Linked DNA regions of Homo sapiens. The protein of the gene in region 3 purifies or fractionates together with the protein of the main gene of each other region. This does not show direct contact. Each region holds a gene or a part of one and is shown on either strand. Other genes may lie near its edges. The genes, in order: SIM2, TADA1, FOXR2, BRD8, TXNRD2, MBTD1 and EPC2.

What was found.
Region 1: the proteins of FOXR2 (region 3) and SIM2 purify together in Homo sapiens (affinity purification with mass spectrometry; 3 studies listed by BioGRID and IntAct, with this or other methods). This does not show direct contact.
Region 2: the proteins of FOXR2 (region 3) and TADA1 purify together in Homo sapiens (affinity purification with mass spectrometry; 3 studies listed by BioGRID and IntAct, with this or other methods). This does not show direct contact.
Region 4: the proteins of FOXR2 (region 3) and BRD8 purify together in Homo sapiens (affinity purification with mass spectrometry; 3 studies listed by BioGRID and IntAct, with this or other methods). This does not show direct contact.
Region 5: the proteins of FOXR2 (region 3) and TXNRD2 purify together in Homo sapiens (affinity purification with mass spectrometry; 3 studies listed by BioGRID and IntAct, with this or other methods). This does not show direct contact.
Region 6: the proteins of FOXR2 (region 3) and MBTD1 purify together in Homo sapiens (affinity purification with mass spectrometry; 3 studies listed by BioGRID and IntAct, with this or other methods). This does not show direct contact.
Region 7: the proteins of FOXR2 (region 3) and EPC2 purify together in Homo sapiens (affinity purification with mass spectrometry; 3 studies listed by BioGRID and IntAct, with this or other methods). This does not show direct contact.

Annotation. Positions count from the first base shown.
Region 1 is NC_000021.9:36,744,115-36,747,265, reverse strand, and holds part of SIM2 (single-minded homolog 2 long isoform), read right to left. Parts: intron 2,539-3,151; coding exon 2,130-2,538; coding exon of another isoform or gene 1,993-2,129; exon of another isoform or gene 942-1,992; intron 1-941. UniProt on the Homo sapiens protein: Transcription factor that may be a master gene of CNS development in cooperation with Arnt. It may have pleiotropic effects in the tissues expressed during development.
Region 2 is NC_000001.11:166,866,265-166,869,764, forward strand, and holds part of TADA1 (transcriptional adapter 1), read right to left. Parts: coding exon 3,499-3,500; intron 3,247-3,498; coding exon 3,181-3,246; intron 1-3,180. UniProt on the Homo sapiens protein: Probably involved in transcriptional regulation.
Region 3 is NC_000023.11:55,622,229-55,626,199, reverse strand, and holds FOXR2 (forkhead box protein R2), read right to left. Parts: upstream 2,801-3,971; 5' UTR 2,489-2,800; coding exon 1,553-2,488; 3' UTR 8-1,552; downstream 1-7.
Region 4 is NC_000005.10:138,144,131-138,147,630, forward strand, and holds part of BRD8 (bromodomain-containing protein 8), read right to left. Parts: intron 1,749-3,500; coding exon 1,659-1,748; intron 1,116-1,658; coding exon 1,047-1,115; intron 1-1,046. UniProt on the Homo sapiens protein: May act as a coactivator during transcriptional activation by hormone-activated nuclear receptors (NR). Isoform 2 stimulates transcriptional activation by AR/DHTR, ESR1/NR3A1, RXRA/NR2B1 and THRB/ERBA2.
Region 5 is NC_000022.11:19,917,819-19,921,318, forward strand, and holds part of TXNRD2 (thioredoxin reductase 2, mitochondrial isoform 5 precursor), read right to left. Parts: intron 1,782-3,500; coding exon 1,725-1,781; intron 1,187-1,724; coding exon 1,042-1,186; intron 400-1,041; coding exon 325-399; intron 1-324. UniProt on the Homo sapiens protein: Involved in the control of reactive oxygen species levels and the regulation of mitochondrial redox homeostasis. Maintains thioredoxin in a reduced state. May play a role in redox-regulated cell signaling.
Region 6 is NC_000017.11:51,190,550-51,194,049, reverse strand, and holds part of MBTD1 (MBT domain-containing protein 1), read left to right. Parts: intron 1-539; coding exon 540-622; intron 623-1,033; coding exon 1,034-1,268; intron 1,269-1,769; coding exon 1,770-1,847; intron 1,848-3,500. UniProt on the Homo sapiens protein: Chromatin reader component of the NuA4 histone acetyltransferase complex, a multiprotein complex involved in transcriptional activation of select genes principally by acetylation of nucleosomal histones H4 and H2A.
Region 7 is NC_000002.12:148,651,251-148,654,750, reverse strand, and holds part of EPC2 (enhancer of polycomb homolog 2), read right to left. Parts: intron 1-3,500. UniProt on the Homo sapiens protein: May play a role in transcription or DNA repair.

The DNA.
Region 1 (3,151 bases), on a different chromosome or scaffold from region 3:
GGTGGCTACCTGATTGGACGGCAGAGGTCTAGAGGCCACCAGGGGCCCTGGTGTTGGAGGGCCCCCGTCTGCTCTGATTTCTTCTGCCCGTCCCTTAGTGGAGAGGGGTGGTAACCACCCCGATCGGTTTCGCCGTGTCATAATGAAAAATAACCACTCCCATCTACTCAGTCCGATGCCTGACATTAAGTAGCTCCCTGGCTTGTGGGTTTTTTTTGTCTTTGTTTGTTTGTTTGTTTTTAAACACTATATGGCAAAATTTGTCTTCCTTTAATACCAAAAAGACTAGGAAGCTGATCGCAAATTGCCTCAAATTAGCACCTTTGGTCCACTTTTTATCAAGTGTGTGATAAGGAGATTGTTAACCTCTTTCACTTTTAAAATAGTGGTAAAAGTCAAATACCATGTGACAGCATTAGCCAGCTTCCGACACACAAATTCAAGTCAATCTCAAGTGGGTAATACTTTCAGCTGTTATCAAAACCCTTTGCTTTGTCTTCCTTTGCTTGGATGTTCTGGAGATCCCTTCCTTGGTTATATGAGGGGCCCAAGATGTTCACGGGTATGGCAGATGCAAATCTAAGGGATCCGTGGCTCCTGGGACAGGCCAGGTCAAAAGGCAGGGGTCCTGGCCCTGGTCACCAATGTGGTCTTTTCTAAGTTAGCTACTTCTGAAAAAACATGTCCTAGTGATTTCCAGAAAGGCGGCATTCTCCCGTAATCTATCTCTCTTCTCAGATTTGGGAAGAAATGTTATCTCAGCCTCAAGTCACAATACAGAGCAAGAGATTCCTAGGATTTGCAGAAAAAGCAGGATGAGGCCCAGAAGGAGCAGAGCCCTACCTGCCTCGAGAGAGGCGTGGAGGAACTTCCAAGAGCTGTCTTCTTAAGCAGGGGCTGGTGTGCTGCTTTTCTGAGGCACATCATCCTTTTTCTTTTTCTTTTTTTTTTTTGAGACAGTCTCACTCTGTTACCCAGGCTGGAGTGCAGTGATGTGATCTTAGCTCACTGCAACCTCCACCTCCCGGGTTCAAGTGATCCTCCTATCTCAGCCTCCAGAGTAGCTGGGATTACAGGTGCTCACCACCATGCCCAACTAATTTTTGTATTTTTAGTGGAGATGGGGTTTCAGCTTGTTGGCAGGCTTGTCGCAAACTCCTGACCTCAGGTGATCCGCCCACCTTGGCCTCCCAAAGTGCTGGGATTACAGGTGTGAGCCACTGAGCCCGGCCTGGGGCACATAATCCTGATGTCACCTTCACCCACATTTTAGTGGCACTGCAGGCATCTGCACCATCTCGGTCTACACTCTGAGCGGCAGTTAGGTCTCGGTGCAATGGGAATACATGTCCTGCAGCTAAACCTCTGTTCCCACCTTCCACCTTCTGCCTGGGGTTGGTCCAGCGAGCAAACAGGAGTCAGTCTGCGTCCTGGGGAGCTGGCGGTATCTCCGCAGAGGACATCTGCTTGCCTGCCACCAGGAGAAGGTGAAAGGCCATTCCTTTCTGTTGAACTAGCATGTACAGGGCAGGTCCCTACTGTGTGTCGTGTCCTTGGGAGTAGGCACATCACAGCTTCACCCCATTTTACAGGTGAAGAAACTGAGGCCTGGAGGGTTTGTGTTCTTTGCCCTGGGTTGGTGAGTGGCATTTCTGTCCCCAAGCCCACAAATTTCCACCATAGTTTTCCCCACTTCCAAAACTGGCATGGGAAAATAGCCAATAGGCCGTTTGTCTCAAATATTCACTTCTGGTTGGAGTGGAAAGGAATCTTGCAAAAGAAATGCAGCTGGGGTGTTCTCAGCACATGGGAGCTGGTTTTGAAAATCACTGTCCCCCTTTGGTTGGTGAATGTGGCCAGGATTTACGTGAAGGCCAGATACTCGGTTTTCCTTTGCCCTTTATACTGTCACTAGTGTCCCCGAGGCAGGCAGACTGCCATTTCTCACTCTCGAGGAGCACCTGCATTGAGAGCAAGAAAGCACAGCAAGCCCTACTTAGAAGCAGAAAGAGGGCAAGTTTGCCCAAAGCGTGAGGGTTCTGTCTCCATCTGCCACCCACCGCCATGGCTGCTTCGGCTCCCGGCCGTGCGCAGTCCTCCCACCTTCCCCACGAGCAGACCTGACCCACCTTCGTAGCTTGGCACCAGGCTGTGCCTAGCAGTGTTCGCCGGTGGCTCTGGAGGATTTTTAGCTGGAGACGAGCTGCTAGGCACTAGGGGGTTGGCATAATGCCACTGGCATTCACCGCTGGCTGGCAGTGTGCTCAGGAAAAAGCGTGCCACCTCACAAGGGGATCCTTGGGGCTGCCCGAACTTGGCCGGCAACATTGGCTTTTTGCTGCTGAAGACGTGAGAGTCCAGAGGGAAGTGTCCGTAATGGTAGGAGAAGGGCAGGCTGTAGGATGGCGTGTACAGAAGGTCACTGCTTTCTGAGTGGGGCTGCAGTTCTGGAGGAGCAGCAGCGCTTGCAGGGGGACTGGCTCTCCAGTTTCCGAGCTGGCCGCATTCCAGTTTGTCCATTTGGAACGAGCTGTATTGCTGCATGGCAAAGAAGATGGATGAAGGGCCAGCGAGGGGCCGGCAGGAAGCTGCCTTCCGGCCCTGCAAGAACCGTCCCGACGGGGCCCAACCCCATCCAAGGGCTGCCCCTACCCTCGCCACCACTGCAAGGTCCCACTGGGGACAGGCACACAGCGAGCGATACCCCAGTGACCTGCTCCCAGGGTGGAAAGAGATCCCCCACCCCAAGCTAACAAGACATCAGGCACACATGGACTCTTTCTTTCTTTCTTTCTTTCTCTTTTTCCTTCTTTCTCTTTCTTTCTTTGTTTTTCTTTCTTTCTTTATTTCTTTTTTCTTTTCTTCCTTCCTTCCCTTCCTTCCTTCCTTCCGTCTTTCCTTCCCTCCCTCCCTCCCTTCCTTTCTTTTCCTTCTTTCTTTTTTTTTTTTTTTTTGTCATAATGTGGAGGCCGTGACGTTCAACTGGTCTATCTGCTAATGACCACATTACCAAAGTTCACTTGGCACAGAACAAGTGATGGAGTCTTGCTCTGTCACCCAGGCTGGAGTGCAGTGGCACTGTCTCAGCTCACTGCAACCTCCACCTCCCGGGTTCAAGCGATTTCCCTGTCTCAGCCTCCTGAGTAGCTGG
Region 2 (3,500 bases), on a different chromosome or scaffold from region 3:
CAATTACTAGCTGGATAAGGCCTAAGGCAAGTTTTTCTTTTGTTTTGTTTTCTCTTCTCTTAATTTTGTTTCCTTATCTATAAAAACAGGCTAACACCTACCATGCAGAATTGTTGTGAGGATTAAAGATAATGCATATAAAGTGTCTAGTATGCTATACTCAACAAATATTATTATTAATATCATCTTTCCTGACTAGCTTAGAAAACTAGAAAACAACCCATCCAAAATTGTGAGGTACAAACAACTATATTTTACTTGTAATAGAAATCTTCTCTTTGTTGCTAACAAATATTAATTTCATTTTGAGAAATTTGGGGTGTTCAATGGAAGAATACATTCTCAAAATCCAAATGCTTCTTCATTTATTTTAAAATAACTATTAACAACCATTCAGAATATCAAAGGTTTTTATCTAATTAAAATCAGCCACCTGTACTTACGAATACCACTTCAACATTTGTTTGGCAATTTTTTTTATTTTTATTTTTTTTTTTTGAGACAGGGTATTAGTCTGTCACCCAGGCTGGAGTGCAGTGGCGCAATCTCGGCTCACTGCAACCTTCGCCTCCCAGGTTCAAGCAATTCTCCTGCCTCAGCCTCCCTAGTACCCAGGATTACAGGTGCCTACCACCATGCCTGGCTAATTTTTGTACTTTTAGTAGTGACGGGGTTTCACCATGTTGGCCAGGCTGGTCTTGAACTCCTGACTTCAGGTGATCCACCCACCTTGGCCTCCCAAAGCGCTGGGATTACAGACATGAGCCACTGTGTCTGGCTGGCATTTTTTATTTTTAAAATCACTTTTTTATAAGTTCTTTCATCTGTTTTTTCATAATCCTACGGGGTAGATATTGCTGTACTTATTTTATAAATTTGAAAGCCCAAGTAACTATATTATGTAAGCTAGTGGCAAAACCTACACTTGAACCTAAGTCTCTTGACTCTTATCAACCAGGGTTTTTACTTCTGATCACTCCATTTATCTTTGGCATATGTGGCAATTTACAATATGCTTCCCTAAAAAGTAAGATTCACAATATTGGCTTTTCTGATCAAATTAAATTTTATGTAACAAAATAGATTATGATTTAACTTTGGACATAAAAGAGGAATGGCTAAAGTCTACTTGTATATAAATTAAATAGCACATCAAAAATCTGACACAGTGTAAGAATGTGCGGTGATGAGTGTGGTGAGGGGAGGGAGGCAGTCACTGCTCTCTAAAACAACCCCACAAGCAGGTGCTCACAGTTTACTACACATTAACAACGACTTCTTTGAGGGTCAAAGAACGAGGTGTTAGGAGATCTTATGTGAATTTTTTTTTTTTTTTTTTAAACACAGTTTCACTCTGTCGCCCAGGCTGAAGTGCCGTGGCACAATGTAACCTCTACCTCCCAGGTTCAAGCGATTCTCATGCCTCAGCCTCCTGAGTAGCTGGGACTACAGATGTGCGCCACCACGCCCGGCTAATTTTCTTTTTTGTATTATTAGTAGAGTAGGGGTTTCACCATGTTGGCCGGGCTGGTCTCGAACTCCTGACCTCAAGTGACCCGCCCGCCTCAGCCTCCCAAAGTGCTGGGAATACAGGCGTGAGCCACCACGCCCTGGCTTGAGTTCTTTATCATACAGTAGAAGTAAACAGAGAGAGAGGATTAAAAAATACCAGCCATTTATAGATAAAACATGAGCTTTCGATATATGATCATCAGAATCACCCTAAGCCCTTAAAAAAATTTCAATTTAATCTACAACAGGAGTTGGTAAGCACAATTGTAATGGTAACTTTTGTAGTCTTATGAATAGATATAAATTGCAATTTAGAAATATAAAAACTACTGAATAAATCATTTGGCCTAATTTTTTTTAAAAAGTCCAGTATGACTTTTATCATGAGGAAAGTTTTCAATGTATTTAATTACTTGTTTTTGACTGATTAAAATAAGATGGTTGAGAGAGGTGACTTACAGCTTAATCTTCTCTTCAGGTTAAAGTGACAGGTTTCGTTTCCACCTACCCCCTCAACATGCTACTATCCCCTACCTCTTGTTATCTACCAATAATCTGTGAAACACAGGTGCTGAAGCTTGACCTTTCAGGTGCTATCTTACCTAAGAACATAGTGGAAGTCCAGGTTCCCAACATATGCTGGGTTCCCCCACCTCCCCACTACGGACACCTTTCAAGTTAGGTATCCCTTAGGTACAGGACACCTAACACCAACTGCCCTCTCTTCATCTCCCTTACCTTCTTCATCCTGATCTCCCACCCTCTTCCTCACTTCTCATTTACTTAAGTAATCTAAAATGTAGCTGAGTGGGGACTCAATATCAAAAGGTAATATAAGTACAGGGACATAACCTGCTTTACAAGGCTCCGTAGATTTGGGCAGTCCCTGCTGTGGTGCTCACCCTGCGCCCTCTTGTTCCCGGGCTATCTCCTTGCTTGCCTTCTGGCTCTCTCAAGCCCTATTCTGAGGGACACCACTATTTCCCCCATTGAGCAAACTGGCCTGCGGGGGAGGGTGGCACACAGAGCAGCCTTGCCCAGCTCTCCCAGCATAACACGCCCGGACCAAGGGGTCCACGGGGGCTAGGACTTGGACATGCCTAGGATTACACAATACCACCTAGGGAGAAAGCACTTGTGAAAACAAACATTCAGACAGTCCTTCCTTCTGGGTGTTAGAAAAGAGTAGTGCCACATCTGGCTTGGCTGAAAAACACTTTACTGATGTAGGAGCTGGCATCATAAGATGAAGATTATAGAGGAAGTGTTGGTGTTGTACAATTCAATTTTGGCAAAGAAAAGTTTGGTGTCAAAAATGGTGATCAAATTGCATAGCTCATTTGTGAACAGACTTTTTCTCCAGAAACAGAAATTCAAGCTTTGGATGACACTGAAAGGGGTTCAGGAGGTTTGGGTTCCACTGGAAAGAATTAAAATGTATGCCAAGAACTGAAAATGAGAAATCATACCTTTTTCTTAAAAATAAAGAGTTTCTGCTTTAAAAAAAAAAAAAGATTCTGTAAAAGAATTTGTATCTACCTAATAAAACTTTTCTTCTGAGTAGTTCAAAAACATCTGCTTTACAAACACTAGCTGTGTCTATTAGAGAAAGCTAAAGTCTAGTGCTTTGCTGACTTACACACACTGGAAGTATTTCCACTCCCTTACCTGGTGTAGAAACCAAAATCTGACAACGCGTGAGAATGGCCAGGAGGAAATCATTGTGAGAATGGACTGAAAAAGGAAAGATAGTGACAATCAAATTCAAAACATTTTCAACATAAGGAAACCACAACTTTGGTCTAGCTTCTCAAGATTTTGGATATCCCCTATTCTGCCATGCTTTATACTTAAAGTATCCACATTATTAAGATAACCTTATACACCACAAAACCAAAATTTTACTTTTTAAAAAGGGAAAAGACTTTACTACAAATCTAGGAAAACTACAGAATAGTAAAATAACTCTGCAGATAATTATTTTACCA
Region 3 (3,971 bases):
TGACTACTTATATGCAGAATATTTTATTAATTCCAAGGTATTCTGTTAACTTGGTCTTTGCCTTATGATACAGAAGTAGCATTTACAATTTTTTTCAAAAAATACTGTTTGCATATGTTGTTTTGTGATTTAACCTAAATATACAATTTTGTATGAGGTATAATACATCATTATAAAAATGTGAACTTTGAAAATAGTTACAATTATATTGAATTAATTGCTTTTGTAGCTTACAGGCGTTTTTGTACCCCCATTATGAAGGTTTTGCAACTAAATTTATACCTAAAAATCTATTTTCTCCTGGATATATGTTAATATCATTGAAGCAAAAAGCTATGCTTAAATCTGATAAACAAAAGTTTATTTGCATAGAAAAGATGTTAAAGATAATTTTGAAATTAGAAAAACAAATGCTGTAGTGTTTGTTGTTGCTGCTGGCTTGTTTCTTTTTTTGTTTTTTAGCAAAACTCCACTGATGTCTCTTGGCTCCTAAAAACCCACAAGATGAAGTCCAAACACCTAATAGTTTTCTCTTAGTCACTCACGGTCCTCATGTAGTTAAGTCACACTGAACTTCATGCCATTCCCCCAAACACTCCATCCACTTTGTTCACATTGTTGTCTCTGTAATGCCTCTACTCCAGTTTGCCATTTATTCTTCAAAACTAGCTCAAAATGTATTTTTTCCAATGCCCTTTCATGTCTTTCCCAGGAAGAATGTCTCCCCATTTCCATGTCAATTTCTCACATCTGTTTCATCATATTTACATTATAAATATGTCTCCCACTAGTATCCCTCAGCTTTTTATCCTCAGCATCTAAGATGGACCTTGACACATTAGCATATCCTCAATAAAATCTTGAGAACTAAAAATAATAGAAAATAAAGCTTTATCATCAAAAGGCTTGGGGTTAATACAGGAATATTTCACAGGACGTTAAACATACAAACTAAAAGTAGCTGTTTAGAATTATTTGTCAATATTGGAATTGGATGACAAAGAAACAAGGCTTAGAAGTCCAGGGCCAGAAATAGAAAAGTGAGGTTCTGAAGGATAAAATGGGTTACTTAAAAAGGAGATGTAGCTGATGAATGGTAGAAGGGGAAACTTGATTCTTCATCACAAGTCAAATTCTCTTCACATGGCACTCGAGGTTCTCCATGGCTCGGCTCCATCCTGCCTTTTATGCTTTATATTCCACTGTTCACTTTCATGTGTGAAAATACTCTCTATAAACAAAATTCCTTTCTTTCACAAAACACACCCTTCTTTCCTTAGTTTCTATGCCATTGTTTCTAGGATTTCTTTTCCTTTGCTCAAAATTTGGAACAACAGCCACTCTCCTCGTGCGACTTTCCATGACTCTCCACCTGGATTTAAGTTCTGTCTCCCCTGTACCCACCTCTAACTTTACTTAACACCATTATTGTAACAGTAGCTAAAGACAGACTTGGCACCAACCAGGCTGGGTAAGTTTAGAGATTAATGAATGTCAGGGGATAAGTAGGCACAGTAAGGAAGGCAGTGTTCCAAAAGGGAGCAATGGCATTTCAAAGATCAAAGAGAGAGGTCAACAACTCTGGCTGACTCATGCACTCTTGGATTCTCTCCCTTTGAGCAAAGGCTAAGACACGAGTCTCCTCCCAAAAGCGGCGGTGCCCCTCCTTAGTGAGCTTCCAAAGGCAAGAGCGAGGTCTTGCATTATCTTCATCCTTAAGGCTGTCTGGCACCTTCTCAAAGCTGTCCAGGAAGCAGAGGTTGTAATGAATGGTGCTCTTCCAGCCATCCGGAGCTGTCCAGAAAAAGGGGAAATGCTGTCGGGTGAAATTGTAGATCTCCTGCACACTGAGGCCACAGTGGGGGTTGTTTCTTAATGCTAGGGCAATAAGGTGGCTACAATTGAGAGGGGGCCTTTGCCAGGACTTCTCTTGGTTGTTGATTTGCCATAGTTTCTGGCTCTGGTAACATTTCATTTCAGGGGACTGGAGGGAGTTGTCGTCTGGTTCCTCAGCCTCCTCTTCTGTGAGCTCAAAGTCACTGGGGGAATGGATACCCTGCTTCTGTAAAGGAGACTGCTCACTGGAGGAAGATGGCAGAGACTCTACCACTTTGTCCTCTGAGCAGTTAGACCCTTCGTCTTTTTGTGGGGGCTGAGGGAAAGGAGAAATGTTTGTCAGATCCTCTTTTCCACTGGGCTTTGGGGCCTCCTGGCTGCCAAGGGGGCACAGGATATTGGGGTCCACCCACATCCACAGATTGGGTTCACAGGGAGGACCATCTCCATCAGGACTGGGTCTCCTCTTCTGAGGCATTTCTGGGGGCTTCATTACTCCGACTCTGTATTTGGCAAGGATTTGCTCAGCTAAAGAGCACTGGTCTGTGGTACAAGGCAGAAATAACTCATTCCTCATGTCCCAGTCCAGCAGCCCTGGGACCTGGCCATGGAGACTATACCAAAATTCACAGTCTTTTAGTTTTAAGTCCATCTTTACTGGAGAGATAGGTGGAGAGAGACTTCTGAAAGAACAGATATCTAGCAGGCACTTAAAGCTGTCCTTTGGGCATCATTTTTTTATGCAGTGTATCTCATCTAGGGAGCTTATCAGTAGGCCTGCTAGAAGCACTGAAGAAAGAGGCACCAATGTCTCACTGATTAGTGGTCAGACCTGGAGAAACCTCAGCTTTCTGGAACAAGGCTCAAAACATGGAAGTAATAAAAAAGAGCTTTTGAGCAGAAAAACATTTTTAGGTGGAATTCTTGAGCTTTGATTGGAAGCAGAAAGTCACTTCAAGAGGAATTATAAACTGAATTATGTGCAAACTATGGTGACTTGCATAATAGGTGATCATCTGGCACATATTTAAACCCTTGATGAGTTCATTTAAGGAAGGGACAAACATATGTATAGATCACATTATATTTCTGAGTCTTCCTTAATGGTTTTAAAAATCATTTCATTCATCGAGTGCCTTTGGATTTTGGTTAAGTGCTTTCACATAGATGATCTCAACTGATTTTCATCACAGCCCTGCAAGATAACATGGTATTATTATCCTCATGTCACAGACATGGCAACTGAGATATACAGACATGAGTAAGTAGGAGAGCTAGATCCACAGCCCAGATCTTTTATTTTCACTATACGCATTGCCTCTTGATCATACTCAACATACGATATACAACAGGCAGTAATATGTGCAACCTGAGTTTTATAGTAAGATGGTAACTATCAGAACATGGCCTCTATTATTCTCATACTGATACTAGAATCTAACCTTGCTGCCGTTTTCAATCCTTTTCTGGGAAACAGCTGGCTTTCCTCTCTCCAGGTCACCTTCTTAGGAAATGAGTTCTGAACTATACTCTGAACAGTAGGACCAAAATTTAGCCACAGTATGCAAGGTCCTGAAAGCCCCAGAGGTTCTATTTCCAGTAAGTTCACACCCAGGACATTTGTAAGAAAAATAAAATGGCAAGGTTTCCTTTAATTCAGTTTGCACAAAATCCATGTGTAAAGTATGCGATATCATTAAAATCACTACATAGGACTATGTTGCAAACATATCCAGCAAATGTCAATGGGAGCTATTGGAGAGGCACTTTAATCTCCATATTGTTTCCATACTCTGGTTCTCTTCTACTCTAATCTTTCATACAAGTGGCCTGAGTTGTCTTTCTACAGCATAAATACAAAAAACAACACAACAGTTGTACCAACTGTTAATTATTACAGAATGCTGTAAGCACTCTAACTCAAATCTTCAAAATAATCCTATGAAGTAGGTACTCTTATTATTCTTCCTTTACAGAGTAAAAAACATAAGGCACAAAAAAGCCTAAGTCACAGAGCTAGTAAAGGCCAGAGCTGACTTTCAAACATAGGCAACCTGACTGCAGAACACATGCTTTTACTAACTATACCAATCTTCTCTATTTTGGTGTTATAACATAAAATCTTATAACTTAAT
Region 4 (3,500 bases), on a different chromosome or scaffold from region 3:
TTAAGAGCTGTAACACTCACCGCCAAGGTCTGCAGCTTCACTCCTGAAGCCAGCGAGACCACCAACCCACTGGGAGGAACGAACAACTCCAGAGGCGCCACCTTTAAGAGCTGTAACACTCGCTGTGAAGGTCTGCAGCTTCACTCCTGAACTCAGCGAGACCACAAACCCACCGGGAGGAAGAAACTCCGGACACATCTGAACATCCGAAGGAACAAACTCTGGACACACCATCTTTAAGAACTGTAACACCACGAGAGTCTGCAGCTTCATTCCTGAAGTCAGCGAGACCAAGAACCCACCGGAAGGAACCAATTCCGGACACAATACTACAATCAACCAATGTTCATAACTTCCATTTGGATCGACATCTGTGCCTTACTATACCTATAACTAACTGAATAAATACAGGGTTCCTTTTAAAGTTTTGCTCCAAAAGAATAGTGTCAAAAACAACCAAAGGCTAATTTAAGATTATAATTAATGATCAGGCTGGACACCAAGGCTCACACCTATAATCCCAGCCTTTGGAAGGCCTAGGCAGGTGGATTGCTTGAGCTCAGGAGTTCAAGACCAGCCTGGGCAACATGGCAAAGCTCCGTTTCTACAAAAAATACAAATATTAGCCGGACGTGATGGCTCATGCTTGTAGTCTTAGCTACTTGGGAGGCTGAGGCTGGAGAATAGCTGAGCCTGGGAAGAGGATGTTGCAGTGAGCCAAGACTGTACCACTGCACTCCAGCCTGGGCAACAGAGTGAGACCCTGTCAAAAAAAAAAAAAAAAAAAAATATATATATATATAGAATGGATCATATTACTTAAAAGTCAATAGTACAAAATAAAAAGCCTATATCATCCTTTTGTTCCCTGCATTCCTTCTTAAATGAAGATATGATACTGAGCTCATCATAACTTTATAAACTTGTTTGGCTATGAAACATATCTTGAGTTTGTAAGTTATAAAAATAATCTAACAGATGGGAAATAAAAAATGAAAAGGCAGATATAAAAGCAACCAACCTTTCTTGACCCCTTTTTCACTGACCTTTTCACCACATCCTTGTACCCTGGGGCCTGCCTTTCTGACACAGGCTTCAGAAATGGACTGCTGAACCTGTTAAGGGACAAACCCAGAGAGGATAAAGAAACCCTGGCAAGGCACTCTGAAGGAGAAGAGTAGCTCAGTTCTTAGTAGACTTCCTTTAGGGGAATGCAGACTGTCAGCACCATTAGGAAAAAATCTATTTGTTCCCTCTTGCCAGAGAGTTAAAAAAAACACAAAACTATAAAATATTTCACTATTATTACAATATACTGATTTAGGGCTCAGAAATTTGTTCAAAGTTCCCAAGGCCCTGTCTCTGTGAAAAAAGAGAATCCACCAGATTGAAAAGAAGAATATACATTTTAAATATAAATTTTATCATGTAGTAGGAACCAATTTCTAGAGGCAACTCAAATGGCACAGCAACTATTTCTTGTACAGACTTGTGAAAGCAGCTGTGGGTACTTTGGGATAAATCGGGCTTAGATACAGAATCTACCTTTCAACTATGGCTCATTTGAGGGATGAACATATCTCCTTTTATGCTTAAACCCCAATATGTATTACTGCTTCAGCTCTGAACATAATCCTATTACCACTTTGGAGACCTACCTGTGACTGGCAATCATCTTCCAGACTGGCAGGAGAGTCTTCTTAAATAGCAAATGATCCTGAACAGGGTCATCCTGGCTTAGATCAGTCCTATGAGGATAAAACATGAAGAAAAGAGACAGTAACTTCACAAATAATATTCTATCTCCCCCAGGTGGGTAATGAGGTTTTCTTAAGACATGCTCCTAATTAATATCTGAAGCTTTTTATCTCCCCTTATCTGGCCAAGCAGACTTAGTTATTAATATCTATTGTTTTCTCTTTTAATTTTTTAATTTTATTTTTCTGAGACAGAGTCTTGCTCTGTTGCCCAGGCTGGAGTGCAGTGGCATGATCTCAGCTCACTGCAACCTCTGCCTCCCGGGTTCCAGCGATTCTCCTGCCTCAGCCTCCCAAGTAGCTGGGACTAAAGTTGCATACCACCACACCCAACTAATTTTTGTATTTTCCATAGAGACGGGGTTTTGCCATGTTGGCCAGGCTGGTCTCAAACTCCTGGCCTTAAGTGATCCACCCGCCTCAGCCTCCCAAAGTGCTGGGATTACAGGCATGAACCACCATGCCCAGCCAATTTTTTTTTTTTTTGAGACAGGGTCTTGCTCTGTTGCCCAGGCTGGAGTGCAGTAGTGTGATCGTGGCTTACTGCAGCCTCAACCTGCTGGGCTCAAGCGATCCTCCTGCCTCAGCCTCCCAAGTAGCTGGGACTCCAGGCACATGCCACCACGCCCTGCAGCTAATTTCTGTATTTGTTGTAGAGACAAGGTCCCACTACGTTGCCCAGGCTGGATATCTACTGCTTTCTAATAAAGATTTCATATTTAATCTAAATTGTAAGGTAAGAATGTGGAATTTACCATCCAAGACTATGAACTGTCATGAGATAAGATGTCTCAGATTGGGCCCGGTGTGGTGGCTCACGCCTGTAATCCCAGCACTTTGGGAGGCCGAGGCAGGCGGATCACAAGGTCAGGAGATTGAGACCATCCTGGCTAACACGGTGAAACCCCGTTTCTACTAAAAATACACAAAAAATTAGCTGGGCGTGGTGGCGGGTGCCTGTAGTCCCAGCTACTTGGGAGGCTGAGGCAGGAGAATGGTGTGAACCTAGGAGGCAGAGCTTGCAGTGAGCCGAGATCACGCCACTGCACTGCAGCCTGGGCGACCGAGCGAAACTCCGTCTCAAAAAAAAAAAAAAAAAAAAAAAGTCTCAGATTGCAGATTTCCTGCTGTTTGTACAGTCACAGTATGTCATCTCTGCACTCTATTGCTCATACTTAAGGAGTTAAAGAAAAGCAAATGAAGGCATTCCTCACCAATCTACATTTTAAACTGTATCCTATTTGTGTACCAAAAATTGAAATCTAGGCTGGGCACAGTGGCTCAGGCTTATAATCCCAGTACTTTGGGAGGCTGAGGTGGGATTGCTTGAAGCCAGGAGTTCAAGACCCAGCTTGGGCAACAAAGCAAGACCCTGTCTCTATGAGAAAAAAAAGAAATCTGCTCTTCAAAAAATATATATATATATATATTCATATATAAATATATGCATGGTTCAGCTGTATATCTTAAACAAAAAAACACTAGAATAATTATTAGTTTTACCTTTCCACAGACAACTGGGTGGATCTGGGATATACTGAAGAAAAAAAAAACAGTTCATACTATATTCTCTCAACAGATGGATCTGACACAGGCTGGAAAAAGAACAATTTATTTATTACCATAACAAAAATAACTTTGCTGGACGTAGTGGCTCATGCCTATAATCTCAGCACTTTGAAAGGCTGAGGCAGGAGAATCACTTGAGGCCAGGAGTCACAGATAAAAACAACTTTGTTTTTC
Region 5 (3,500 bases), on a different chromosome or scaffold from region 3:
GCTATGTCCACGCTCTCTGGCCTGAGGCCTTCCAGCCCCAAGCGCCTCCTCCCTGTGCAGCCCTGGGCTCTGGCCATTCTGCCAATGTGGCCTCACTCATTCCTTGGCAGCACCTCCAGGCTCTGCTCAGCAGCAAAGGGCAGTCTCCCCTTCCCCTACAGTCACTCCCATCTGCTCCTTGTCCTCATCCCCACCCATGAGCAGGACATGAACCCCCAGAGCCTGCCAGAGCATGCTCTGCACAGTAAGTAAGTGTGTGTCCAGGCACAGAACGCCCAAGAGAAGGCCCAGAGGGCGGCCCATTCCCGGAGAGAGCTTCAGTACCTGTCCTGAAGCTGGACACGGTGGCCCCAGTTCAAGGATTTCACGTGATTTTGAACAGCTTCTGCCATCTTCCTCCTGTGAAGATACGAAACAAAATGTAAAATCCACAACACAGGTGTTAGCTGCAGGGCCTCACGATGGACTATTAGATTCAAATGGTACATTCATAGAAATATCAAAAAACAAGAGTGCTTTTAAAGGTGGCAAAACGTGACATCCATCCCTACGTGCAACCGCCTGTCCCAGGCTCAGGGCTGCAGACCTTTGGACTCACAGAAAACAGGGGCTCTGACCCACGGCTCTCCAGATGCAGCTGCTCTGTGCCCCAAAGGCTACCCACTGCAGGCAGAGGCCTATCTGAGCCAATGTGGGTGTGGCTGGGCCACGTGGTCCCCTTCCCAGAAGAGCTCAGCTGAAGCGGCCTCCCACCCGCACTCCTGGCCTTGGAGATGCACTGTTCTTGGTGGGGCTGTGCTGTGCATGGCTGTAGCATCCCTGGGCTCCCCGCAAAGGGGAGCAAACCCTTCCCCAGTGACAACCAAAACTGTCTCCAGACATTCCCAAATGTCTGAGGCAGACAGCGCAGAGTCGCCCCTGGCTGAGAAACCCATCCTACGGCCCACTCCCCATGAGGGCTCATCGAGGATAAGCCTCCTCTTCCTCTTCCACCCAAGAGTAGAAGAAAAGCACTGGAATGCCACGGCGCCAGATCCTTACCAGTCATGCGGCACGGGCTGGGCCACCTCCCAGCCATAGTTGGGGGCATCTTGGATCAGGCCTCCCAGCAGTGCCGCCTGGTGCATCAGCTTCTTGGGGATGCAGCCCACGTTGACGCAGGTGCCGCCGAGGCCCCACCGGGTGCCTGGGACGTGGGAAGAGCACATTTGAATTTATGTTCAGGTGACTGCTGGAGGCTTCCCTGTTCTTCTAGAGTGTTTGGAATTCCTTAAAGTTGCTTTGTAACTCTAACACAGACCAGCTGACATGCCACACGAATCTGCTCTCTATAACTGTACTCGAAAATAAAAACAGTTGTTTTTACTTTTTAATATTTATTAATTTATTTATTTGAGATGGAGTTTTGCTCTTGTTACCCAGGCTGGAGTGCAGTAGTGCAATCATAGCTCACTATAGCCTCGAACTCCTGGGCTCAAGTGATCAAGGCCTGCCTTGGCTTCCCAAAGTGCTGTGAGTACAGGCGTGAGCAACTGCACCTGGCCAGAGTTGTTTTCGATAATGGTCAAGAACTTTAAAGTAATGATGAGTGAAACAGGACACTGTCCAGAAACCATGGACAGCAGGGCTGAAGGACTTTGGTGTCAGCTGCCCTCTGTACAGGAACTGGGCCCACCTCCCACCTCCTTCCCCAGGACACCCGGCTCCCATAGGGTGCTGCCTACCTTGGGGAGAAGGTTCCACGTAGTCCACCACGGCCACCTTCCTTCCCAGCTGGGCGGCTGGAAGGATAAGGAGAGCAGCAGGTGAGCATGGGGAGCTGGCTCAGGACTCAAGAACAGGCACTCCTCAGGGCTTGTGAGGTCCAGAAGAGTGTGGGCAGGGCCTGGGCCTGCGGCTGCCCACACAGTGGCTGAGCTGCGCAATGCTAGGGACCCCTGATCTGCCTCTGCGCTCTGGCCTGCTGAGCTGCGCTGCCTGCTGGCTCTGCATTGAGTCTTCCAGTCTCTTTCTGGCACTGCCCACCCAGCTGCGCTGCCCACAGGCAGGAGCCCTCAGACCTCTCAGGGCCCGCAGCCTTTGTACCATCCACCCCTCACAGTGCTGGCATCAGCCCCACCTGCCCCTGCATGTTCACGTTCACCATAAGCCCAGTGCCCACCCAAGCATCCCTGGGTGGCATCCCCCAGGTAGCCACTCACCGGGAATGGCTCCTGACTCAGAGGCTCTCCCTTGCCCCTTCCCATCCCAGCCAGAGCCCCCTAGGTGGGCATTCGCTGCCTCACTCTCAGGACCAGGACACCAAAGCTCAGGAGAAGTGACGCAGCAGCCCCAGGGTGGACCAGCCCCAGAGCAGGAGCCGAGACCTGACTCCAAACCACACTTCCCGCTGCAGAGCCACCCAGTTGCCCTCCCAGCCAGCAGTGTGGCCACCCAGGGCCACAGGTTCTGGGGCCAACTCAGAAACCATTAGCCAGGACCGGGCATGGTGGCTCACACCTGTTATCCCAGCACTTTGGGAGGCTGAGGAAGGTGTATCACTTGTGGTCAGGAGTTCAAGACCAGCCTGGCCAACATGGTAAAACGTGTCTCCACTAAAAATAAAAATTAAAAAATTGGCCAGGTGTGGTGGTGCAAGCCTGTAGCCCCAGCTACCCGGGAGGCTGAGGCAAGAGAATCGTTTGAGCCCAAGAGGCAGAGGCTGCAGTGAGCAGAGATCACACCACTGTACTCCAGCCTGGGCGACAGAGCAAGACTCTGTCTCAAAAAAGAAAGAAAGAAAAAAAAAAAAAAACATTAGCTAGGGCTAATTTCAAGCTTCCATTTGCCCGGGCTTGGGCACTGCATCAGCAAACTTCAGGCCTTGGACTTGACTGCCTCCCAAGGCACACACAAATCTCATGAACCCTAAAATGCCAAGGAAAGTGTTTGATTCGTGGCTATTAGAAAGCAAGATTAGAACAAAGTTTTGTAAGAGTTCATTTTTAAAATCCATTTTGCTTGGCTGGGTGCAGCGGCTCATGCCTGTAATCCCAGCACTTTGGGAGGCCAAGGTGGGCAGATCACGAGGGCAGGAGATCGAGAACATCCTGGCTAACACGGTGAAACCCTGTCTCTACTAAAAAATACAAAAACAAAATTAGTTGGGCGTGGTGGCAGGTGCCTATAGTCCCAGTTACTCGGGAGGCTGAGGCGGGAGAACGGTGTGAACCCAGGAAGCGGAGCTTGCAGTGAGCCGAGATTGTGCCACTGTACTCCAGACTGGGTGACAGAGCGAGACTCTGTCTCAAAAAAAAAAAAAAAAAGCTAATGTCCACAAGGCACAGTGGCTCACGCCTATAATCTCAACACTTTGGGAGGCCGCAGCAGGCAGATTGCTTGAGCCCAGGAGTTTGAGACCAGCCTGGGCAATATAGCAAAACCCTGTCTCTACAAAAAATACAAAAATTAGCTGGGTGTGGTGGCATGCGCCTGTGGTCCCAGCTGCTCGGGAGGCTAAG
Region 6 (3,500 bases), on a different chromosome or scaffold from region 3:
CATTGTAGTAAACAGAAAAAGAGAGCCACTTTTGCGTTAGACTAAGTAGGCACACCAGTGTTTCTAGAGAGGGGAGGGAAATCTGTGTAACATGGAGGAATTATTGCACTCAGCAGTATAAATCATATAGGCCAGGTGCAGTGGCTCACGCCAATAATCCCAGCACTTTGGGAGACTCAGGTAGGAGGATTGCTTGAGACCAGGAGTTTGAGAACAACCCGGGCAACATAGGGAGACCCTGTCTCTACTAAAAACAACAAAAAATTAGCCTGTCACAGTGGCATGTGCCTGTAGTCCCAGCTACTAGAGAGGCTAAGGCAGGAGGATCACTTGAGCCCTGGAGGTTGAGGCTGCAGTAAGCCTTTGAGGGCACTACTGCACTCCAGCCTGGGCGACAGAGCAAGACCCTGTCTCAAAAAAAATAAAGTTGATCATATAACCTATGCTCTTAAGATTTTTTGTACTGTTACTTTTTGTCTGCATTTTAATATTATGCTAATTTTAAATGAACTGCTAGTTAAACCAGTTGTGTTTTTTAGGTTACACAAAACTTCCTTTTAAATGGTTTGACTACCTCAGGGAAACTGGCTCCATTGCAGCACCAGTAAAACTATTTAATAAGGTAAATTTAAATGGCAGCATAATTATGTGAGGACTTATTAATGCCCCACAAATACAATTTATGTTCATAAAAATGTCTTTGCCTTGTATTAGAATTTCTTAGTGGAGATATAATATAAACAAATATAGCAATGAAACAATATAAATATTTTCTTTACCTAGGAATCAAAACTTGTTTCCAAACTATGTTTCGTTTTTAATCTGAAGGAAATAGAAATGAAGATTTTTCCTAACTAGTTTTTAAATACTTCACCTTCGTACTATGTTTAAATAGTTAAAGAATTATTTGGAATTTATGGTTTATAATTATGTTATTTAGCTAGTCGCTTCTGTTTTTTGCTTTCTTAGTGATAGTAGGGTTGTGCATTCTTTCTTCTTCATACCAATATTAATGTTTTCTTCTCTGTGTCAGGATGTTCCAAATCACGGATTTCGTGTAGGAATGAAATTAGAAGCAGTAGATCTCATGGAGCCACGTTTAATATGTGTAGCCACAGTAACTCGAATTATTCATCGTCTCTTGAGGATACATTTTGATGGATGGGAAGAAGAGTATGATCAGTGGGTAGACTGTGAGTCACCTGACCTCTATCCTGTAGGGTGGTGTCAGTTAACTGGATATCAACTACAGCCTCCAGCATCACAGTGTAAGTTGGTATACAGAAAAGGTGTCCTTTTGTAAAAATCAGCAATTCTCCAGAGGACTATCTCACATAAGTCATCTTATGAGCTCACAGGACAAGAATATACCTATGTCTGATTGGTTGCCAGGTAAGACATTAAGACTCAACAACAATATCACAGAATCAGACCATGTGTCCCATGGCAATGTGAATCCAATAGTCAATTACATAATGACTATAGAAACACAACAGTCACCAAATTAAACTAGACTTACTATTTTAGTGAGTTAAAAATTACATACTAAAAGTTTATTGGTAGGTAATAAATGCTTTTGAGTAAATAGTGGAAAATGTCTCATGTTGAGGCTATGGTTTTGTAGGAACAAGTACCCTTATTTTCAGAGCATCATGTACTTAAGTATAATGGTCTTGGTAAAGATAGTTCATATAAGTTGTATCTAGACAACTGTATCGTCTAAATTGTAAACAATTATCTAGTACCAATTTTCCCTTTTTATTTTTCAGCATCAAGAGAAAACCAATCAGCTTCATCAAAACAGAAGAAAAAGGCTAAGTCCCAGCAATACAAAGGACATAAGAAAAGTGGGTCACCACGTGGTGTTCACATACATTTTCTAATTGTTAACTAATTGGAGTCACAGTATTCTTGGACAGAAAATGATATATCTTGTGAGAACTGATGATTGTGCATTATGTATTATGCTTAAAGGTGCAGTATGCCATAAAAGGCAAACCCTTGCAATAATGAGAAACACTGATATTTTACTAACAGGAGAAATTATTACCACAGTATTTAAAGTATACGTGGTAAAGAATAGAGTCTGTGAATGATTCTTGAAATAATATGTAAAACCTACTGAAAGTTAATCCTTTTTAAAAACTTTATTTAAAAAGAAAAATTAGCAGCCAGGTGCAGTGGCTCACGCCTGTAATCCCAGCACTTTAGGAGGCCGAGGCTGGCAGATCACAAGGTCAGGAGATCGAGACCATCCTGGCTAACACGGTGAAACCCTGTCTCCACCAAAAATACAAAAAATCTGCCGGGCGTGGTGGCACACGCCTGAAGTCCCAGCTACTCAGGAGGCTGAGGCAAGAGAATCACTTGAACCCAGGAGGCAGAGGTTGCAGTGAGCCAAGATCACGCCACTACATTCCAGCTGGGCAACACAGCAAGACTCTGTCTCAAAAAAAAAAAAAAAAATTAGCAGATGCTTGATGCTTACAGTAGATGTGAAGCCTAATAAACCCATTTTTCCTAGAAAGCAAAACTTTCTAGAGTGATACTGGTAAGAAATCCAAGTTGATGGCAAACAAGCTTTACCAAATTTTTCTAGAAATGCTTTCTATACTAAAAAATTAGCCGGGTGTGGTGGTGCACGCCTGTAATCCCAGCTACTTGGGAGGCTGAGGCAGGAGAATTGCTTGAACCCAGGAGGCGGAGGTTGAGGTGAGCCGAGATCGTGCCATTGCACTCTAGCCTGGGCAACAAGAGCAAAACTCCATCTCGAAAAAAAAAAAAAAAAAGAAATTCTTTCTATACTATATTTTACCTTACAGTGAATTGTTGGCATAAGCCAAAGTAATATAAAATATATTGATAACTATGTTTGATTTTTTTTATCTTATTTCCCCACCATAGAAAGCCATAGCTTTCTCTCTTCATAAAACTTGTCATAGAATGTTTCATTCTTTTTTGAGACAAGGCCTTACTTTGTTGCTCAGGCTGGAATGGAGTGCAGTGGCACAATCTCCGCTCACTACAGCCTTAACCTTCCCTGGCTCAAGCAGTCCTCCCACCCCAGCCTCCTGAGTAGCTTGGACCACAGGCATGTGTTGCCACACACCCAGCTAAGTTTTGTATTTTTTTGTAGAGACAGAGTCTTGCCACGTTGCCCAGGCTGGTCTCAAACTTTTGGGCTCAAGCACTCTGCCCACCTCAGCCTCCCAAAGTGCTGGGATTACAGGCATGAGCCACCACACATGGCCATATTTCATTTCATTCTTAGATAAGGTTATATATATATATATATATATTTTTTTTTTTTTTTTTTTTTTTTTTTTTTGAGACAGAGTCTCAGTCTGTCGCCCAGACTGGAATGCAGTGGTATGATCTTGGCTCACTGCAGCCTCGACTTCTCGGGTACAAGCAATTCTCCCACCTCAGCCCCTGGAGTAGCTGGGACTACAGGAGTATACCACCATGCCCAACTCGTTTTTATATTTTTATAGAAATGG
Region 7 (3,500 bases), on a different chromosome or scaffold from region 3:
TGCCAGAAAACAGAAGGAAGGAGGAAAACACACATATTAACTTGTAATGTTTGAAAGCGCTCTCTCTTTTTGTTTGTTTGTTTCTAAGAGACAGGGCCTCAGTCTCACTCTGTCATCCAGGCTGGCGTGCAGTGGCGCTATCACAGTTCACTGCAGCCTTGAATTCCCGGGCTCAAGGAATCCTCCAGTTTCAGCCTCCTAAGTAGCTGAGACTACAGGTACATGCCACTCCACCCAGCTGATGTTTTTATTTTTTGTAGACACGAAGCCATACTATGTTGCCCAAGCTGGTCTCAAAACTCCTGGCCTCAAGCTGTAAAAATGTTTAATTGGCATGAGAAAAAATGTGAAACTCTATCACAGAATAATGTATGGGAATACTCTACATTTTACTCTTCCATCAACCTTCATATTTGTTATCCTGTATAAGTGAAAATTGTTACCAAAAAAATGAGTGTTGCCTATAAGACACAGACTTAAGTTTTTACAAAAAAATGTAATCTTGGCCGGGCATGGTGGCTCACACCTGTAATCCCAGCACTTTGGGAGGCAGAAGCAGGCAGATCACGAGGTCAAGAGATCAAGACCATTCTGGCCAAGATGGTGAAACCCCATCTCTACTAAAAATACACAGATTAGCTGGGCGTGGTGGCGTGTGCCTATAGTCCCAAGCTACTTGGGAAGCTGAGGCAGGAGAATCACTTGAACCAGGGAGGCAGAGGTTGCAGTGAGCCAAGATCGCGCCATTGCACTCCAGCCTGGGTGACAGAGCAAGACCCTGTCTCCAAAAAAAAAAAAAACAAAAAAAAAAGTAATCTTTAAAACTAACTTTTCAGATACTTATTAAACAGATGAGGAAATGGGGCTCAATGAGGTTAAGTAATTTACCTCACCCATAAGGCAAGTGGCAGAGGCCAGGATTGGAACCTAAATCACAATTTCAAAGTTCCAACAACTTCACCAAATTAGCAGCAAAACTGAATGCTGCTTGTTGACTCCCCAACCAAGACATGAGACACGTCCTTAGCCCATTTAAAAAAAAAAAAGCAAGCAAGCAGGGAAGCAAAGATAGGAGTTAAGAGAGGTAGCAGATAGGCTGACTCTCCAGTCTGCATTCCTCTGACTTTATAGCAACAGCTGCTTACAGTAAAACAAAAAACCTAAAAGAAGACAGATACAATGAAACTGCTGAGGAGAAACTGGAAGTGACTGGCATCTTCCTCCACAGTGTTAACCCTGTAAGAAGCGGTTCTGCATGATAGAATATGTAAATTTAAAGCTCTGTCCCATTTAAATAGTATAGACAAGGCAAATAATCGATGATCAACTTTAAGTTAAAATCAAATAATCATGATGGACCTTCTGCCATCTGCATTGGTCTCCTTCAGGGCTTATTCCTATCAGCCTCTCCTCCTCATGCTGTCTCTACACACCCATTACTGTTTTTCTACTTCAACTCTACTTAAAACTAAATGAAGATGCAGAGCTGCATTGTTTACCAATACAACGAAACTCAATCCAAGTGACCAGCAACATGCTAAGTGCCTGTATTACAAACTTTTTATCACTTAAGACAGAAAGTGACAGAAGTACCTGGATTGCTATCCTGCCTGTCTTGGGTACTGAATAAAACACACATGATACCTTCCCTCAAGACATTTAGTCTTGTTGGGGAAATAAGTGTCTACTCTCTCTCGTGCACATGCTCTTTTTCATACATATATAAAATTCACACACACACCATTACACACACACTCAAGTGAGAAAAATGATACTAGAAAATTAAAATAAACTCAAGTGGTAAAGACTAAAAGTACTACTGAACTTCAGAATACTTACAGCAATGAGTAAGCCTAGTAAAGTGAAGAAAATTTCATGAAAGCAAGATGATCATAACCAAAACATACACAGAATGGATTGCTCTACTAGGCTCTAGGAAAAATTAATATTAGATAGAGGACGAATATAATCGATCCTCATAAAAGAACGATAAGCCAAATTGACAGGATCTCAGCAGTATTAAAGAGTTAAACCTTAAGCATTAATTTCTTCCCAATATTTAATGTCACATTTGTTAGTTCTTTTCATCTAATTATAATCCTGGACAATATGCCAGTAGATAGACATGCGGTTTCAGAGGTTCAAGTAATTTTTAGAGTCAAAGGTACTTTAAAGGTCACTCAGTCCAATTCTATTTCACAAATGAGAAAACTAAGGGCCAGGAAGGTTAAATAATTTCTACGCGGTCAAACAAAACTCATCCCTTACAACTTTGAAAATTAATAAGTGTGAAGAGTTTGCTTTTTTTTAAAAGGACACTGGAGACTTCTTTTACAGTCTTTGATTCAAATTTCATTTAAAACATAACACATACAAATTATTCTAAGCTCATTAAAACATCTTACAAATTTATGGTTTGTAAAAACACACTAAGTATACAAATTCACCTTGGGACAAATCATGGATTAAAATGATTTAACACTTTAACTTCCTAACTTTTGATCATGCTATATTACCATCGGTAGCAGATCTCTCAGGGCAGCTCTCCAGCTGAGAGGGTAACACTTCTCAACATAGGTATACTAACTTCCCCTTCTCTTTGAATGGCAGACTCAGAGGTAGATACCTGATGCAAGCCAGACCAATAACGCTCTCTATCTCAAGAATCTGGAATTTTGAACTTTAAATGGGAAAATAAATGATAGAACAGTAAAGCTATAAAGGACCTTAGATATCTTCTAGTTCTCAACCCATTCATTTTACAGATGAAGCAGTACAACGGTGAAGCAAGAGCCCCAGAGTCAATCAGCCTGAGTGCAAATTCTGGCTCTAGCATGTTCTTTTTTAGACGGATGATCTTAGGCGAGTTACTTAATTTCTAAAGTTTCAGTTTCTTCCTCTGAAAAAGAAGTAGTAACACCTATATGTCCTACTCTTAAAATCAACTCTAAACCATCTATTAAGTTTAACAAAGTGCCTGGCACATGCTCAAACACTCAACAACACACACTCAAATGTTAGCTGAGATAGTAGTGATGAACAACCTGAGGCTCAGAAAAGCTAAGCAACTTCCAAATTATATGGCCATTTAACCCACTTAGGCATAAATGGGTTAATCCATGACAACCAGAACTAGAAACAAAAACTCCAGAATCATACTTCAGTGGTCTTTCATCTATACCACCCTACAAACTCCTAGGCCTAACATTCAAAACTGCCTATAATTTAGTCTAATTCTACCTTTTTTCCAACCTAATCTCCACCCCTATTTTTACTCCTTCATTCACCAAATATTTACTGAGTGCTTCTATGTTTTAAACGGTTTTTAGTGCTGAAGATGTAACAGGGATAAAATGAAGGGGAAGACAGAAGCAAAAGATGTCTGCATGTCCGAACGAAAACAGGGGAATGATATGGTCAGCAACATCAGAGTGCTATCCTCCTAAAGTTTCTATTAGCAGGAAGAATAGGAAATGATTGACAGAAAGCATCTAACATGG